Linked DNA regions of Homo sapiens: region 2 is linked to region 1. The links come from fine-mapping of genetic effects on gene expression. A gene starts in region 1. The other region holds a variant in brackets. All regions are shown on one strand. Distances are between the middles of the regions.

Region 1 (8,340 bases):
AGGAAAATAATTGTACTGGGATTGCTGGATTAAAGGGGTGTGTGTGTGTGTGTGTGTGTGTGTGTGTGTGTTTACATATAAACATTTTTTTTAAGAGGTAGGGTCTCCTTATGTTGCCCAGGCTGGAATGCAGTGGCTATTCAAAGGCACGGTTATAGTGCCTTGAACTCCTAGCCTCAAGTGATCTTCTTGCCTCAGCCTCCTGAGCAGCTGGGACTATAGGTGTGCTTGATATATTTTATTTTTATTTTATTTTTTTTAGATGGAGTATTGCTCTGTTGCCCAGGCTGGAGTGCAGTGGCAGGATCTCGGCCCACTGCAACCTCCGCCTCCCAGGTTCAAGCGATTCTCCTGCCTCAGCCTCCCGAGTAGCTGGGATTACAGCTGCCTGCCACCACACCTGACTAATTTTTGTATTTTTTAGCACAGACGGGGTTTTGCCATGTTGGCCGGGCTGGTCTCGAACCCCTGACCTCAGGTGATCCGCCCACCTCAGCCTCCCAAAGTGCTGAGATTACAGGCGTGAACCACCACGCCCGGCCCACCTGATATCTTTTAAATTTGTACATAATAGAATTATCTTTTAAAATAATTTTCACTGTCTACTCCCATTTTTGATATTACCAATTTTCCTGCCACTCAAGATTAGGACATTGACAGTGGGAGCTTTGTTTATGGTGGCTTATCCCCACGGATTTAGCGCTGGAGAGAAAACGTAAAGCTAGGAGAAAAGAACATTTTGAAAGCCACAGAATAGGCTCTTCAGCGGCTAGAACACGGTTCCAGGCTAGGGCAATATGGCGTCCTGTACACCGGATTGCATCATCTTTCTTTGCCAAGGATCATCTGGAGCTCAAATCAAATCTAAATGTGTCCACCTCTAAAATGGGGATAATCTTCATGTTTCTTTTCCTTTTACAGATATAAATGCAATTTCATTGTCTTGACCGTTAGGAATTCTCTGAAGGTCTGTTACTACGTAAATTGTGTGAACTCCGAACAGCAGAGTTCAAACTTGATCAGAACAAAAAAGGCTAGAGAGTGGCAACTCTCCTTTCCGTCATTTTAATGGCTTTTGTATGACCAAATGTTTCCTTGCCAGTCAGTGGGGAAGAAGCAGCGAGCTTGTCTCTTAATTGCTTTAGAGTTCTGTTTGTCTATTTAGCGTTTCTTTTTGAAGTCTGAAGATTTATGGAACAATAAACGTCATTTAATGCTGCGTGCTATTTTGGATTCCTCACTGGTTTTAGAATTTGGGTAAAACTACTTAGCTGAAAGTTTAACAAATTTGAAATTACAAGTATTGTAGAATAGTTCATCTCAGTGACATAAAATTACGGCAGCAGCAAAGTGTGTTACTTTGGTTTTTTTTTTTTAATAGTAAGATGTAGACATTTTAGTATAACAAATGTTTTCAAGTTGTTTGGGAAATAAATAAGCTAGGAAGCAAGGTTTAAATAAGAATGGTTTGGTTTGGTGCTGAATGATGTTGTTAGTACACCGCAATTCAAGTGTTGGCTATGCATTTGGGCCAATTTAGGGAAGTCCAAAACAACGCACATTCGCTCAGTAGTGTGAGAGATTAATTGTAGGCAGGTCCCATCTTTTTTACAGTATTCAAACGTTCAACCTTAAGACCCCACCAGGGCGTCTCATTCCACCGGGAACTAGAGAAGCTTGACTTGTGTGATCACCTCCTGATGAATGGACTGGGGCGGAACACAGATCCGGAGGTGGGGGCTTCTCTTCACCAAGCGCAAAGCCTACCTTCCAGAAGGCTGGCTGCACAAGCGGCCGCCCTAAATGCGGTCAAAGCGGGCAAATTCGCCGTGGGTGCCTTCCTTCCCTACCTCCGGCCCACTCTGGTTGCTCCTTCCCAGGTGCTCCAAGCTCTCCAGAGTTTCTGGTGGTTTAAAGTTTCCGCTTCACGCCCAGACTGCTCTAAGGGCAAACACGACCCCTTTCCTCTTCTAGGACCCCTTCCGTGAAGTCTGTTCCAACCCTGAGCCTCTCCACCTTCGAGATTGGCCGCAGATGCCCCGACGGGATGGCCTGGGGAGCCGAAAGCTGTCCCCAGCCCCGGACAGCTACTGCCCACGCCGCGCAGGCCAGCCTCACACAGTAGCGAATCTCCTTCACGCGACTTCCTCGCAGGCCTGTGAACCCGCAGGGGAGGCGGAGGTCGGTTCAAACCCTGCGAGAGCCCCTGCCCAGCGCGGAGTCCTGCACACGGTGGAAAGTCCTTACGCATTAGCGGGCAGGATTAAACGACTTCACACCACGAGGTGCAAGACTGGGCTTCGGGGCCTTCCTCGGTGTTGCTATTTTAAAAGAAGCTGCTCAGTAACCCAGAAGAAGATGACGGGGGACGGTGGTGTAGACCCGGCTGGAGAGGAGTCCAGGGCCTGGGAGGCGCCCCCTCTGACTGAGGGGCTGGGGACCCTGAAGCTTGGCGTCCAGGCCCCGCCAGCGCTGCACCCGGCATTGTCCCGCCTGGGGCAGGCGTCCGGTCCCTCGGCAGTGCGGGCCAGCACGTACGTAGTAGCTGCTGAATAAATAAATGCCTATGCAACAGGGAACGTCCCGGCCCACCCCGGCCGGGCCAGGGCCTAGGAAGGGCGGGCGTCCGGCGCCGCCGTGGGTCCCTCCGGCGTGGCCGCCCACACCTCCTGGCCACGGCGGGGCTGCGGTGGGGGGACATCCTGGGGCGGGCGGCTGGACGGAAGGGACTAGAGTCGGGGCGCGTCCACGGCCAACCGCCCCGAACCAAGCAGGGGAGGCCAGGGACCAGGAGCTTCCGGGGCCCCGCGGCTGGAGCGCCCGGACGCGAAGGGGCGGCGGGTGACGGGGCGCGGTGCGGGCGGCTACAGGGCCGGACGGGAGTTCCTCCGCTTTCCGCCGCGCGGCTCGCGGTCTCAGCCGAGGTCATCGAGGGCCAGGAGCCCTGGCGGAGGCCCCGCCGTCCCGGACCCACCGACGCACTCCCAGGGCTTGGCGCTTTCCCACCACCCCGGACCGCCCTTGGGGTGCCGGAGGGGCTCGGGGCGCGGCGTGGGGAGCCTTTGTGCCCTCTCCGCTTGTTGAGGTTTTTTCTCCGGAGGAGAGCTCCCCGCCCGCCACCCCTTTCCTCTCGAAAGTTTTGTGGTTTCCCTAGAAGACGAAAGAGGTTGAGAAGGTTGCGGAGACTTTTGCAATCTTCCCCGTCCAGAAACTCTAAAACCTCTCGGCGTTTGGCCCAGGGGAGCTATCTGGGGTCAAGGGGAGGGAGCTGGCCGCACATTCCTTCGCCCGCCTTCCTCCCACCTGGAGCCGCGGCCCCGCGGGGCAGTGCGTCCGAGCTGGTGCGGCGACGCCGGCAGCGGCGGGGTTAAGCTCAGGAATGCGGCGCGAGGAATGCGCATGCAGATGAGGCGGGCGGGCGCATGCTAATCGCATGCAAATGAGGGGCCCGCCGCTGCCGCGGCAGCGCCGCAGCTTCCCGGATCCGAGCCCAGACGGCGGCGGCTCCGGCAGCCTGGGCGCCGCGACCCTCGGCGGCCAGAGGGGGACGGGGCGGAGGAGGAGGAAGAGGCGGAGGCAGCGGCGGCGAGGGGGAGGAGGGTTCGCTCGCCGGCTCCGACGCAGACATGGTGGACTGATCCGCAGCGGGGCCGCGAACAGCGTTTCCTGAGGCACCTCCCGCGCGTGGTTCCGCCGCGCCCCGCGCCCTGCGCCCCTCAGCCCCTCGCCGGCGCCCGCGTCGCGGGTTGGCAGCCTAGCCCGGCAGCCGCGTTCCCGCCGCGTCCCGCGCCCGGTACCTATGGAGGCGCCGCTCGCCGGCGAGGCCGCCGACCATGCCTAGGAGGGCCGGGAGCGGTCAGCTGCCGCTGCCCCGGGGCTGGGAGGAGGCCAGGGACTACGACGGCAAGGTCTTCTACATTGACCACAACACCAGGAGGACCAGCTGGATCGACCCCCGGGACAGGTGGGCGCCGGCCGCGGGGGCGCGGGCCCGTTCGGACACGGCGGCTGTTGTCCCGGAGACCCGGCCGCGCGGGGGGCTGGGGCGGCGCCGGCCCGCGGTGCCCCGAGGGGTCCCGGGAGGGATGTGGGGCTGGCTGCTCCGGCGGGGCCGAGGAGCCGCCCGTACCCGGGCTCCTCCGCCCACCGGCTTCCCGACGCCCCTCCGGGGACCCGGCCCCGAGGCAAGGCTGGAGTCGCTGCCCCGGGCCGACGCCGCGCGCCAGGCTAACGGACCCGAGGGGCCACCTGAGCCCTGTTAGGAACTTCCCTAGGCTTCGAGGTGCCCACGTGGAGGCTGCAGGACACCTTCGGCCTCTGGGCGGCGGGGGTGGGCTAGGGCCTCACTGCCAGTTGGGGAACGAGCCCTCCGGGCCACCTGTGGCATCCCTCAGGCCGTCCTTGGCGCGGGAGCCTGGGCTGCGAGCTCTTGGCGGGGGCGCCCAGACTGGCCGGAGGTCCCGAGCTGGGAAGGGGCTCCCGCCCCCCGCCGGGCCCTGCTAGTGGGTGTGACTGACTTTGCCCCTCAGAGTTTAAAAACGCGCGTTTGGGGGTTTCGCTGTCTGTCGTTAGTCTTCACCTGAAAACTTGAACCGACTCCCAGATCGGGAACAGGCATATTGTGTTTGGAAGGGAGATGTAGTGAAATTAACGTTGGGTATTGAGGCACTCTGATTTGAGCTTAGCCTGGTTTCTTTGTTTTTTGTTTTTTAAATTGGTTCAGGAACTGAAGGTTCACAAATGTTTCTGTGTCCCATATTTTTTTTACCCTTAAAATTTCTTAGAATTATTGTAAGAATAATAGGAGGTATTCCTAATTATAAATTTGTAAATTATCCATTAAGGAGATATTCCTAATTGTAAATTTAAATAACGTGCCACCAGGGATAACTTCGACATTTGGACTTTTGTCATTTCTGAAAATTATAACTTTATTGAATGTGGCCCTTTGGGCTTTATATACTTTTTAGGTGCTTCTCCTATTTAACATTTTCCCTTTTCTCAATTTGAAGCTGAAATACCTAACTACTTTATAATCTCAGTTACTTTTGCCCTAAAAATGTTGTTTTTGAAAGCTACTAAAAGGCAATTACAAGAAAGTTATAAATAACATTATAAATTTATGGAACAATCCTTGTTCAATTATCCGTGAAGCTACGGGCCTAGGTTTCCCTCCTGAAATGAGAAAAGGCACCTGTGCTGAGGTTCGGTCTTGCCGCAGCCTGGCTGCCTGTTGCTGGCCTGATGAAAATTGTGACAGGCATCACACCTTCCCAGTGTCTCCAGACGTGCTAGTTGTTGTCATAAACTTCACGCTCCAAGCCAGTTATTTGACTTATGCTATTGCACTTTGAAACTACTTAACAGATAGTAAATGTCAGTGCTGATGGTGTGCACCCAACTGCGGCTTTTAAGGCACCTGTATAAATATTTGACTTTTACAGTTGTGTGGTAATTCTTTCTGCTTTCTGATACTTGGAGTTTCAGGTAATTGAAATAACAATAAATTCTTGAAATATTTAGGCATTCTAGGTTCTCTTCTTCGGTTTACATGCTTTACTATATTATCTCAGTTGTGTTTACCGGAAAGGATTACAAGAATATGTAATGTCTGGGTAAAGTAAATAGAAAGTGGAGTGAAATTATATGACTTGGCTATCCATATCACTACTTTTTTCACAAGTCAAGCATGTCCTTTATTTTAAACTCTTAATGGATTAGTAATTATTATGAACTATTTTCAGGAAACTGGATAAACAATTCATTGGATAGGGACAAATAGTTTTGACTAAGATAGCTTTTTATTTTTCCAATTTTCCTTGCAGCTGTTAGGTCTTAAATATTCAGAGACATAAATTTGACGACTTACAAATATTTCTGGATCTCAGAGTTTTAAAAGATACTCTGTTGAGATCAGAGTCACCATTATATACTCAGTTTAAATTTGATTATATTTTCTTTTAGGGCAATTAAGTGACTAAATCTTACTAAATAGAGTAAGAGCTGATGGGAACGTATATTTGGAGTAACTATTAACTCCTGTCAGTTTTGTTACACACTTACCAAACATATGGAAAGAGAGATGTTACACAGGCCAATAGGAGTGTGTGGATTCTTCTGCAGGATCAACTTACAAATTCTGAAAGAAAAACAACTTGATATACTATGGGTCTGCAGTACTTTTGAACTGTTTAAGCCATTTAATTAGAATGGTCACGATGATTTACCTTGCATATTTTTTATGTTATTCTGTTAAGGAAAAGAATTTTGTGTTTTTGATAGTCTATCAGAATTTGTTGAATATTTCTGATTATACAGATAATTATGCCGATTTAGTAGGGGAGGCTAGGGCATTTTATAAGAACATAATTTCATTCAACAGGTAGTCATGCCAGAATGCTGAAGCATTATTCTAAAATGCTTTTAAGCTTTTGGAGGTGAATGACGTCATTCAAACTTTGCTGGGATGTGATCAAAGCTTTTATTGCTCCACTTCTTACTTTTATTGACTAAGTTTACGTGAGTTTCTGAATCCCTCTAAACCTCCATTTTTCAGCTCTAAAATGAGGATAATATCATCTTCTTCATAGGGGTGTTTGTGGGCTCACCATTAGGGCCCAGCCTAATTGTATTAGTGTAGTGTTGACATTCCAGTTTAGGAACTGAGTGACCCTGGAAATAGTAGAAATACTAGCATGGACAGTATTTACTCAGTGTGTATTGTGTGCTAGGCACTCTGCTAAGCTCTTTAACTGTGATCTCATTTCATTCTCCCGTTGGTCCTGTGAGGTAGGTACTACTGTCATCTTCCAGTTACAGATGAGGAAATTGAGTCACAGAGAAGTAGCCCTTGTTAAGTGTGGAGCTAGGATTTAAAGCCAGACAGCTTGACTCTACAGCATGTGTCCTTAATCATTCCTTTAAATTGTCTCGACGCTTGCGCATGTTCAGGGGTCTTTGGGTGGAGTGCACAGAGGGGCAGAACCTTTTTGCCCAGTGTTTATTTTTCAGGCTGAGTGACTAGGCTAATCCTGGGGAAATCTCCCTGTTTGTGATTAATTCCTTGTCCCCCTACCCTGCCTGCATGGGCCCACTCCCCGAGTGTTATTTTGTAGGTTTACCCCCTCTTCTTTTGCTCACCATGGACCCTTTTGAACATACCAGTTGGTGTTTATGGTAGGCCATAGGTCTTGGCCAAATGGCCTGGTGCTTTTTTTTTTTTTTTTTTAATTACATTCAACAAAGGAGAAAAAGGTGGGATGGATTGGCTTCATTGCCTTTTGGAGGAGTAGGGAGCTTAAGTGGGCAGGCCTCAGAGATAGGGTGGGTTGGCTTTACCAACTCCCAGTAGAATTTTGCTCATTTTCTATCCTTGGATTGAATGTTACCCAGAGATACAATGACTTTGTCTAGTTGAACTGAAAGATTTCACACCATGCAAAGTGACTTTCCATTAAAACCCACTGATAGACACTAATCTGTGGCTTATGGCAAGGGTCAGATGTTGAGCAACCTGTACCTTCTAACTGAATAAAAATAATCTTGGGGGGTGGGGAGGGTGAAAAGGGAGGAAGGGGGTGCCAGCTGGGTATATCATTGATGTCACAGTTAACTTTTGGCTCTCCACACCCGTTTGAGGCATATGACTAGGATCAGAGGAACTCTGTATTGTCTTTTTTTTTTTTTTTTTTTGAGACGGTGTTTTCGTTCTGTTGCCCAAGTTGGAGAGCAATGACGTGATCTCGGCTTACTGCGGCTCCCGGGTTCAAGCGATTCTCCTGTCTCAGCCTCCCGAGTAGCTGGGATTCCAGGCGCCTGCCACCACGCCCGGCTAATTTTTTGTATTTTTAGTAGAAATGGGGTTTCACCATGTTGGCCAGGCTGGTCTCGAACTCCTGACCTCAGGTGATCTGTCTGCCTCGGCCTCCCAAAGTGCTGGGATTACAGGCATGAACCACCGCACCTGGACTTGTGTTTCTCTTTTTTTTTTTTTTTTTTGAGACGGAGTCTTGCTGTGTCGCCAGACTGGAGTGCAGTGGTGCCATCTCGCCTCACTGCAACCTCCGCCGCCTGGGTTCAAGTGATTCTCATGCCTCAGCCTCATGAGTAGCTGGGATTACAGGCACCACCATACCCAGATAATTTTTTTGTATTTTTGGTAGAGATGGGGTTTCACCATGTTGGCCAGGATGATCTCCATCTCCTGACCTTGTGATGCGCCCACCTTGGCCTCCCAAAGTGCTGGGATTACAGGCATGAGCCACCACGCCCGGCCTGGCCTTGTCTTTCTTTCAAAGTCTAAGTAATTTCTTTTTTTTTGAGACAGAGTCTCACATTGTC
Region 2 (8,340 bases), 120 kb after region 1:
AAATAGGCTCAACAAGAAGACATTTTGCCTAAAATTCAGGCTGTCAAAATCATGTGGATATATTTTAAAAGATCCAGCTTACTTCTGTTTCTGTCCATGAAAGATTAACTACCACAAGAATTGCCCTCTAACAGCAGGTGATTAGAGAACTGGACAAAAATCTAGGAAACAGCTGTTTTCAGACTTCAGGTAACAGTAGAAGACTGTAATTCTTAACTGAAAGGAAACAGATGAAGTGAGCCCTGGGATTGCACTGTTTGCAGTATGAGGAGAAGGACCCAAACATAGTCTAGTGGTGTGCATGAGTTGATGAGACAGAAGAGAAAAGTTCATTGGCGGAGAAGTGGCTAGAATATATAGGAAATACCAGAGAGAAGGGAGCTACAGAGATAGAAGAGAGCAAGAGCAGGCAAGTGCCAGTCTAGAGATTTCTAGTAGGGTCTCCTCAAATCTTTGACTGAATACTGATTGAGTAGCCATGGTACACAATACCATGAGGCTGGAGAAAGAAAGTGATAGGGCAGTTCTCAGAGCTCACATAGGGCTGGGAATAGTTTGTGTTTCCATCAGCCAGCATAGAGACATAGAACCTTGAACAGAAACATCAGAAGGGTAATGCCATAGTAGTGGGACCAAATTAGTCTGAGGCTAGTGCTGCATTGGACTTCTTCTAACAAAAATTGAAAGCAAACATTGAAAGGATCAAATTGATTTAAAATAATTTATTTGTGTGCTAGAACAAAGTCCAGGATCCTTTAAGATAATACAGTAAAATCCAGCACCAAGAATGTAAAATTCACAATGGCCAGTATCTAGTCAGAATTTTTCATGTGTATTGGGGATGAGAGTAGTGTGGAGGGGCAAAAGAGGGCTTACCAAGAGGGCATCAGGAAACCTTTGGGAGTGTTGGGTATATTCTAAAAGTGTATTGACAGTTACATGTGTATATACATGTGTCAACACTTATGTATGTAGTTTAAACATATTCACTTTATTATATGCTAGTTATACATCAATAAAGCTGTTAAGAATGATCAGGTATGCAAAGAAGCAAGGAAATATGATCCACAACAAAAAGAAGAAATGACAGGTACAATTTAATTAGCAGACAAACATGTTAAAACATGTTATACATATGCTCAAGAATGTAAAGGAAAATGTGAAAATGGGGAGAAAAAATATATTAAAAAAAACAAAATGGAACTTCTACAGATTAAAAATACAATATCAGAAATAAAATAACTATATGGGAGTAACAGCTGATTATACATTACCAAATAAAAGATCAGTGAAGTTAAAGACATAGGAATAGAAACTACCGAAAATGAATTACACAGAGAAAACAAAGTCTGGTAAAAATTTATCAGCATGTCAGTGTCCTGTGGTTCAATATCAGATAGTTAGACATGTGTAATTAAAGTTCCCTAGAAACAGCAGGGGAGGAAATCACAACAATTATTTGCAGAAACTGAAATTATTAATCCATCAATATAGGAAATTCAACAAACCCAAGGCAGAATGAAAAAAAAAGATCATACCAAAGCACATCATAATCATATTGCCAGAAATCAATGGTAAAGAGAAAATCTTAAAAGTAGCCATAGAAAAAGTCATTATGTACAGTGGAATAAAGATAAGAATTACAACAGACTCCTCATCAGAAATAATACAAACTATAAGATAGTGGAGTGGTATTTTAAGAGTACCAATACTAAAAGAAAAACTGTCAACCTAGATTTCTATACGTAGTGAAAATATCTTTTAAATTGAAGGCAAAACAGCCAGTATAAAAATGGGCAAGAGACTTCAATAGACATTTCTGCAAAGATATACAAATGGCCAATAAGCATATGAAAAGATGATAAACATCACTAGTCATTAGGGAAATGCAAATCAAAATTACAAGGAGATATCACTTCACACCTATTAGGAAAGCTATTACTTAAAAAAAAAAAACAACTGACTAACACAGGTTGGACATTGGTATATAAGTATCTGTTTGAGTCTCTGCTTTCGGTTCTTTGGGGTATATATCCAGAAGTGGAATTGTTCGATCACAAGGTAATTCTAAATTTAACTTTTTGATATATATCTATATAGATTTTGATACATATCTTCTAATCTAGGAAGATATTTGTTATAAAGAATTGGCTGACACAATTATGGAAACTGGCGAGTCCAGATTTGCGGCATGGGCTGACAAACTGGAGGCACAGGAGAGCCAGTACAGTTCCAGTCCAAAGACCAGCAGCCTGGAGACCCAGGAAAGCTGATGGTGCAGATGAAGTCTGAAGGCTGGCAGGCGGAGACCCAGGAAAGCTGGCAGTGCAGATGAAGTCCAAAGGCAGTCTGTTGAATTCCTACTAGGTTAGAGAGGTCAGTTTTTTTATTCTGATCAGGGCTTCAACTGATTGGATGAGGTATATTCACATTATGGAGGGCAATCTGTATACTCAGAGTTCACCAGTTTAAAAATTAATCTTATCCAAAAATATCCTCCAAATTGACACATAAAATTAACTATTACATACCTACAACCTATGTGTCCATCACAGGTAAATGTCAACAAAATATGGCATATACATATAATGCAATATTATTAAGCTTTAAAACATAATGAAATTCTGGTACATACTACAACATGGATGAACCTTGAAAACATTATGTTAAGTGAAATAAGCCAGACACAAAAGAACAAATATGATTCATCTTATGTAAGGTACCTAGAATAAGCAATTTCATAGACACAGAAAATAGAACAGTGGTTACCAGGGGCTGAGGAAGAAGAGAAAGGAGTTACTGTTTAATAGGGACAGAGTTTCAGTTTAGAACAATGAAAAATTTCAGGAAATGACCAGTGATAATGGTTGCACTTAATACCACATGATTGTATACTTAAATGGTAAGTCTTAACATTTATATTTTACCACAAAAATAAAGAATAAAATAATTTTTCAGACAAACAAGAGAACTGAGTGCCTGCAGAGCTGTAACATATTAGATGTTAAAGGTAATGTCTTCAAGCAGAGGGAAAATGATACCACCTGGAAATTTGGATCTAAATAAAATAATGAAAAATGTTAGAGATGATACATATTCAAATACAAGACTTTTTAAATAATTTGAAGTCTCTTTAAATAAAAATGCCTATTTAAACAAAGATAATAAAATAGGTTGTGAGGTTTATAAAATATTTAAAAGCAAAATATAAGACATCACAGAATGGGGGAGAACGGAAGGATGCTGTCATAAGGCACTTTGACTATTCATAAAGTAGTGACTTTTATTGGAAGTAGACTGCACATTTTATACATTAGAGCAAACTTTTTCTATAAAGATCCAAATAGTAAATATTTTAGATGTTGCAGGTATAGTAAGCAGAATTCTAAAATATTTTCCAATCCTCCAAGGTTTTCCCCTCCCCCACCTTTCCTAGTATGCATGCCTTTCATAATTTCCAGGCTGAATATGATTCATTATTTAATATGGCAGAGTTAACTTTAAGATAGAGAAATTATTCTGGGTGGTAGAGAAATTATCCTGGGGAACTGGAGGTAACACACAAGCCCTTTAAAGACAGAATTTCTCTGGCTGGTTGTAGGGGAGGACATTAGATGTCAAAGCATAAGAGGGTTTAAATGTACCATTGCTGGATTACAGAGGGAGAGGCCAACATGGGAAGAAACTGAGAGCAACCTTGACTGATAGCCAGCAAGGAATACAAGTCTCAGTCCTAGAGCCACAAGGAACTGAATGCTGCCAAAAGTGAGAATGAAGTTTGGAGTGGATTTTTCTGCAAAGCCCCAGATGACAACTCAGCCTGGCTAACACCCTGATTTCAGCTTTGTGATAATTTGACCAGAGAGCCCAGAGAACCTAGTGAGCTATTAAATAATTGTAATTAATTTTAAGCTGCTAAGTCTGTGGTAATTTGTCCTGCAGCATCAGAAAACTCATATAGCAGGCCATGTGCAGTCTCTGGTGCAGATTTTTGCTCTTTTTTTCTACTTTTCTTGGATAATAGTTAAACATTTACAAACCTTTATTAACTTGTGGGCCATAAAACAAAAACAAAAATCAGGCCACAAGATGAGCTGTCATTTGCTGATTCCTGCCCTAGAGTATCCACTTTAAAAAAAAAAAAAAAAATGGCCGGGCGCGGTGGCTCACGCCTGTAATTCCAGCACTTTGGGAGGTCAAGGTGGGCAGATCACAAGGTCAGGAGATTGAGACCATCCTGGCTAACACAGTGAAACGCCATCTCTACTAAAAATACAAAAAAGTAGCCGGGCGTGGTGGCGGGCGCCTGTAGTCCCAGCTACTCGGGAGGCTGAGCCAGGAGAATGGCGTGAACCCGGGAGGCGGAGCTTGCAGTGAGCCAACATCGTGCCACTGCACCCCAGCCTGGGCGACAGAGCGAGACTCC[G/A]TCTCAAAAAGAAAAAAAAAAAAAAGGTAACACTTTTAAGCCAATAAAGGAGATAAAATGGAACCATTAGAAAAAATTTAGTTAACCCAAAAGAAGGCAAGAATAGAGGAAGAAAATATGACAATAAGAAAGCTAATATACTAAATGTATTAATAAATGGCCTAAATGCTCCAATTAAAAGGCAAAGATTATCAGAATGGTTAAAACAAGACCCAATTTCATGATAGCTGCAACAGACCTACTTTAAATATAAAGGCCTAGATAGGTTAATTAAAATATTCAAGAAGATATATCATGAAAATACAAATCCGAAGAATGTTGCAGTTGTCATATTAATATCAGACAAACTAAACTTCAGAACAAGGACTATTACTAGAGATTTTATAATCATAAATAGATCAGTTCATCAAAGGACATAAGAATCTTAAAGATGTATGCACATGCTAACAGAGCTTCAAATACCTGGAATAAAGACCAATACAACTGCAAGGTGAAGGACAAATCTCTAATTATAGTTGGACATGATAGAATGTGTAGTCAGATAATCAGCAATGCTGTCGAAGATGTAAACAATAACAGACCAACTTGATCCAATTAACATTTATAAAATAGAACACACCATTTAAAAACAGCAGAAGTGCACACGGAACATCACAAAAGTAATCCTTACTCTAGAATATGAAAAGAAGTCTCAGTACATTTAAGGGGACTCAAATGCATAGAGTATAACTACAGTGGAATTAAATTAGACATCATAAACAGAAATATATCTGGAAAAATTGTCAAATACTTGGAAATTATTAGCATACTTCTCAATAATTCATTGGCCAAAGAAGAGAGCTCATGAGGAACATTTAAAAATATTTTGAACTAAATAAAAGGGAAAATACACTGTATAAACATTTATTGGGTATAGCTACAGCAGTGCTTAATGGGAAGCCATTAGCAAATGGAAGTCTCATACATTGCTATGGGAATGCAAAATGGTACAACCCTTTTGGAAAGCGGGTTAGCGATTTCTTACAAAGTTAAACATATTTAACATACTATCTAGCAATCACACTTACAGGTATTTACCCAATATAAATGAAAGCATATACCCATACAACGAATTCAGTGTAAATATTTATGAGAGCTTTATGCTTATTAGCCTAAACTGGGAACCAGCCTAAATGTCTATCAATAGATAAATGGATAAACAAATTGTGATATATCCATAAAATGTAATTTAAAAGGAACAGGTTACTGATACAACATGGATGAATTTCAAAAACAGTGAAAGTTTAGTGGTTGCTAGGGGCCAGGTAGAGATAGACTATAAAGAGGCGTGAGGAAATATTTTGTTGTCGTCCTGGTGGTACATGATTATATATACTTGTCTAAACTCATCATATTGTACATTTAAAATTTGTGCCATTTATTATAAATAAATATGGTTAAAATACCATTTTCTATGTGGGAGGAAAAGATTCAGATGAATAATTATTAGAACTAATAAATAGAATCTATATGTATTTTATATATATGTAAAATCTTTTAACATATCTATGATAGCCATTCATAATATATAAAATTAAAAAATCATATTCACAATAGCAAACCCAAATCATAAAATATCTAGAATTAACTTTTATCAAGAAATATAGTGGTCCTATCTAGAGAAAATTATAAAACATTTTTGAAGGATATAAACAAATTTTAATAAATGAAAGATATTTTAAAAAATAGAAACAATATAAGGATGCAATATCAAAATCCTAATTTGGGGATGTAGGAGGGGGAACAAGAGAGAAATTTTCAGAATATCATCTGGACATGTTACTAGAACAAATTTACCTTACATATAAAAATATGTGGCCAGGCGTGGTGGCTCACTCCTAGCACTTTGGGAGGCTGAGGCGGGCAGATCACTTGAGGCCAGGGGTTTGAGACCAGACTGGCCAACGTGGTGAAAACCCATCTCTACTGTTAATAAAAATACAAAAATTAGTCGCATGTGGTGGTGCACATACCTGTAGTCCCAGCTACTCAGGAAGCTGAGGCACGAGAATCACTTGAACCTGGGAGGCAGAGGTTGCAATGAGCTGAGATTGTGCCACTGTACTCCAGCCTGGGAGACAGAGTGAGATGCTGTCTCAAAAAATAAAATAATAAAAATATAGTTACGTGCCAAATAAATGACACTGCAGTCAATGACAAACCACATATATATGATGGTAGTCCCATGAGATTATGATGCCATGTTTTTGCTATACCCTTTCTATCTTTTGATATGTTTAGATACACAAATGCTTACAATTATGTTACAGTTGCCTACAGTTTTCAGTACAGTAACATGCTGTACAGGTTTGTAGCCTAAGACAATAGGCTATGCCAAGTGGCCTAGGTGTGTAGCAGGCTATGCTATCTGGTTCTGTGTAAGTGTACTCTGTGATATTCACGTGATAGCAGAATTGCCCAACATCGTATTTCTAAGAGTGTAATCTGATGAAGTGACACATGACTAAACTTTATTATGGGAAATACTAAACAATATACATGAGTAGAGAGAATAGTATAATTTTCTCCCATATTTCCGTCACATCTCATCCATTTTATCTTTTACTTTCAGCCTACCCTCTGAATTATTTTCATGACAACTTGAAATAGTGTATCATTCACCTGTAAACATTTCAGCATGTATTTTTAAAGCTAAGAAGAAAGTAACTACAATGCCATTATTATTTTGGAAAAGTTAACTAGAATTCTTTATTGCTGTCCAAATGCCTTATCAATATTTATGTTTCTCATTTGTTTTTCTATTGGCTTTTTTGAATCAGGGTGTAAATATGGTCTATATATTGCAATTGGTAAATATATTTCTGAAGTCTAATTTTATTTTATTTTTTATTTATTGTCTTTTTTTGAGACGGAGTCTCACCTTGTCTTACCCAGAAGTCTTACCCAGGCTGAAGGGCAGTGCGGCAATCTCGGCTCACTGCAACGTCTGCCTCCTGGGTTCAAGTGATTCTCCTGCCTCAGCCTCCTGAGTAGCTGGGACTATAGGCACCTGCCACCATGCCCAGCTAATTTTTGTGTTTTTAGTAGAGACAGGATTTAGCCATGTTGGCCAGGCTGGTCTCGAACTCCTGACCTCAGGCTATCCCCCCCACCTCGGCCTCCCAAAGTGCTGGGATTACAGGTGTGTGCCACCGCACCCAGCTGAAGTCTAATTTTAATCGCCCTCTTTTCTTTGTAACTTAAAACAAAACAAAACAAAACTAGGTCATTTGTAGAATTCCTCGCTGTCTGATTTTTGTATCTTACATCCCCATGGTGTACTTAAATTCCTTTGTTCCTATAATTCCTGTAAATTATTAATTAGATGTAGAGGATTATGAGATCTAGTTTTTTTGGGGCGGGGACATTCACCATGGGTTGTGCTGTATATATCCATCATGAAGTGCATGTCTCTTTTTTATTGTAGTAGTAATTTATCGTCTAGATTTGTTATTTCGTTAGGGATTGCAAAAATATTACAGTCTAAGTATACCATTCCTTATTTATTTATTTATTTGTTGGAATACCTCTATAAAGAGAAACTTTCCCCCTGCATCACCACTTCTGTTTGTTATTTACTGATCCTCAGCTCATATTGGAAAGATAGATGAAATTATAAACTGTGCCATATCTCTGTCTAGCACCTGCCAGAGATAACCAACAGAGTTGAGGTTTTTGTTTAGTTTTGTTTTTGTTTTTTGTTTATTTTTTGAGACGGAGTCTCGCTCTGTCACCCAGGATGGAGTGCACTGGCGCCATCTCAGCTCACTGCAACCCCTACCTCCTGGGCTCAAGTGATTCTTGTGCCTTAGCCTCCCGAGTAGCTGAGATTACAGACATGTGCCACCACGCCTAGCTAATTTTTGTATGTTTAG

Direction of the effects. Positions count from the first base shown, and alleles are read on the strand shown. Sizes are in standard deviations (SD) of each study's normalised expression.
For the expression in adrenal gland of the gene that starts at base 3,599 in region 1, allele G in region 2 goes with a lower level than allele A (moderate effect, 0.44 SD a copy in GTEx).

What was found. PIP is the estimated chance that this variant, and not a neighbour inherited with it, causes the effect. A credible set is the group of variants that fine-mapping cannot tell apart.
Region 2: its variant is the best candidate, but not a certain one, in a credible set for the expression of WWC2 in adrenal gland (GTEx, PIP 0.77).

Annotation. Positions count from the first base shown.
Region 1 is chr4:183,095,659-183,103,998 of GRCh38, forward strand. It overlaps WWC2 (WW and C2 domain containing 2), which reads left to right and starts at 3,599. Exons shown (of 23, transcript NM_024949.6): 1 at 3,599-3,964. The coding sequence starts at 3,834. It overlaps WWC2-AS2 (WWC2 antisense RNA 2), which reads right to left and starts at 3,541. Exons shown (of 1, transcript NR_024008.1): 1 at 1,363-3,541. RefSeq lists enhancers at 718-1,012, 2,358-2,652 and a silencer at 2,358-2,652.
Region 2 is chr4:183,216,403-183,224,742 of GRCh38, forward strand. The region is part of intron 4 of WWC2 (WW and C2 domain containing 2); the gene reads left to right. Among named protein-coding and RNA genes, the nearest start is that of WWC2-AS1, 20 kb to the right of the region's middle. The variant G/A (reference allele first, on the strand shown) is at 4,427.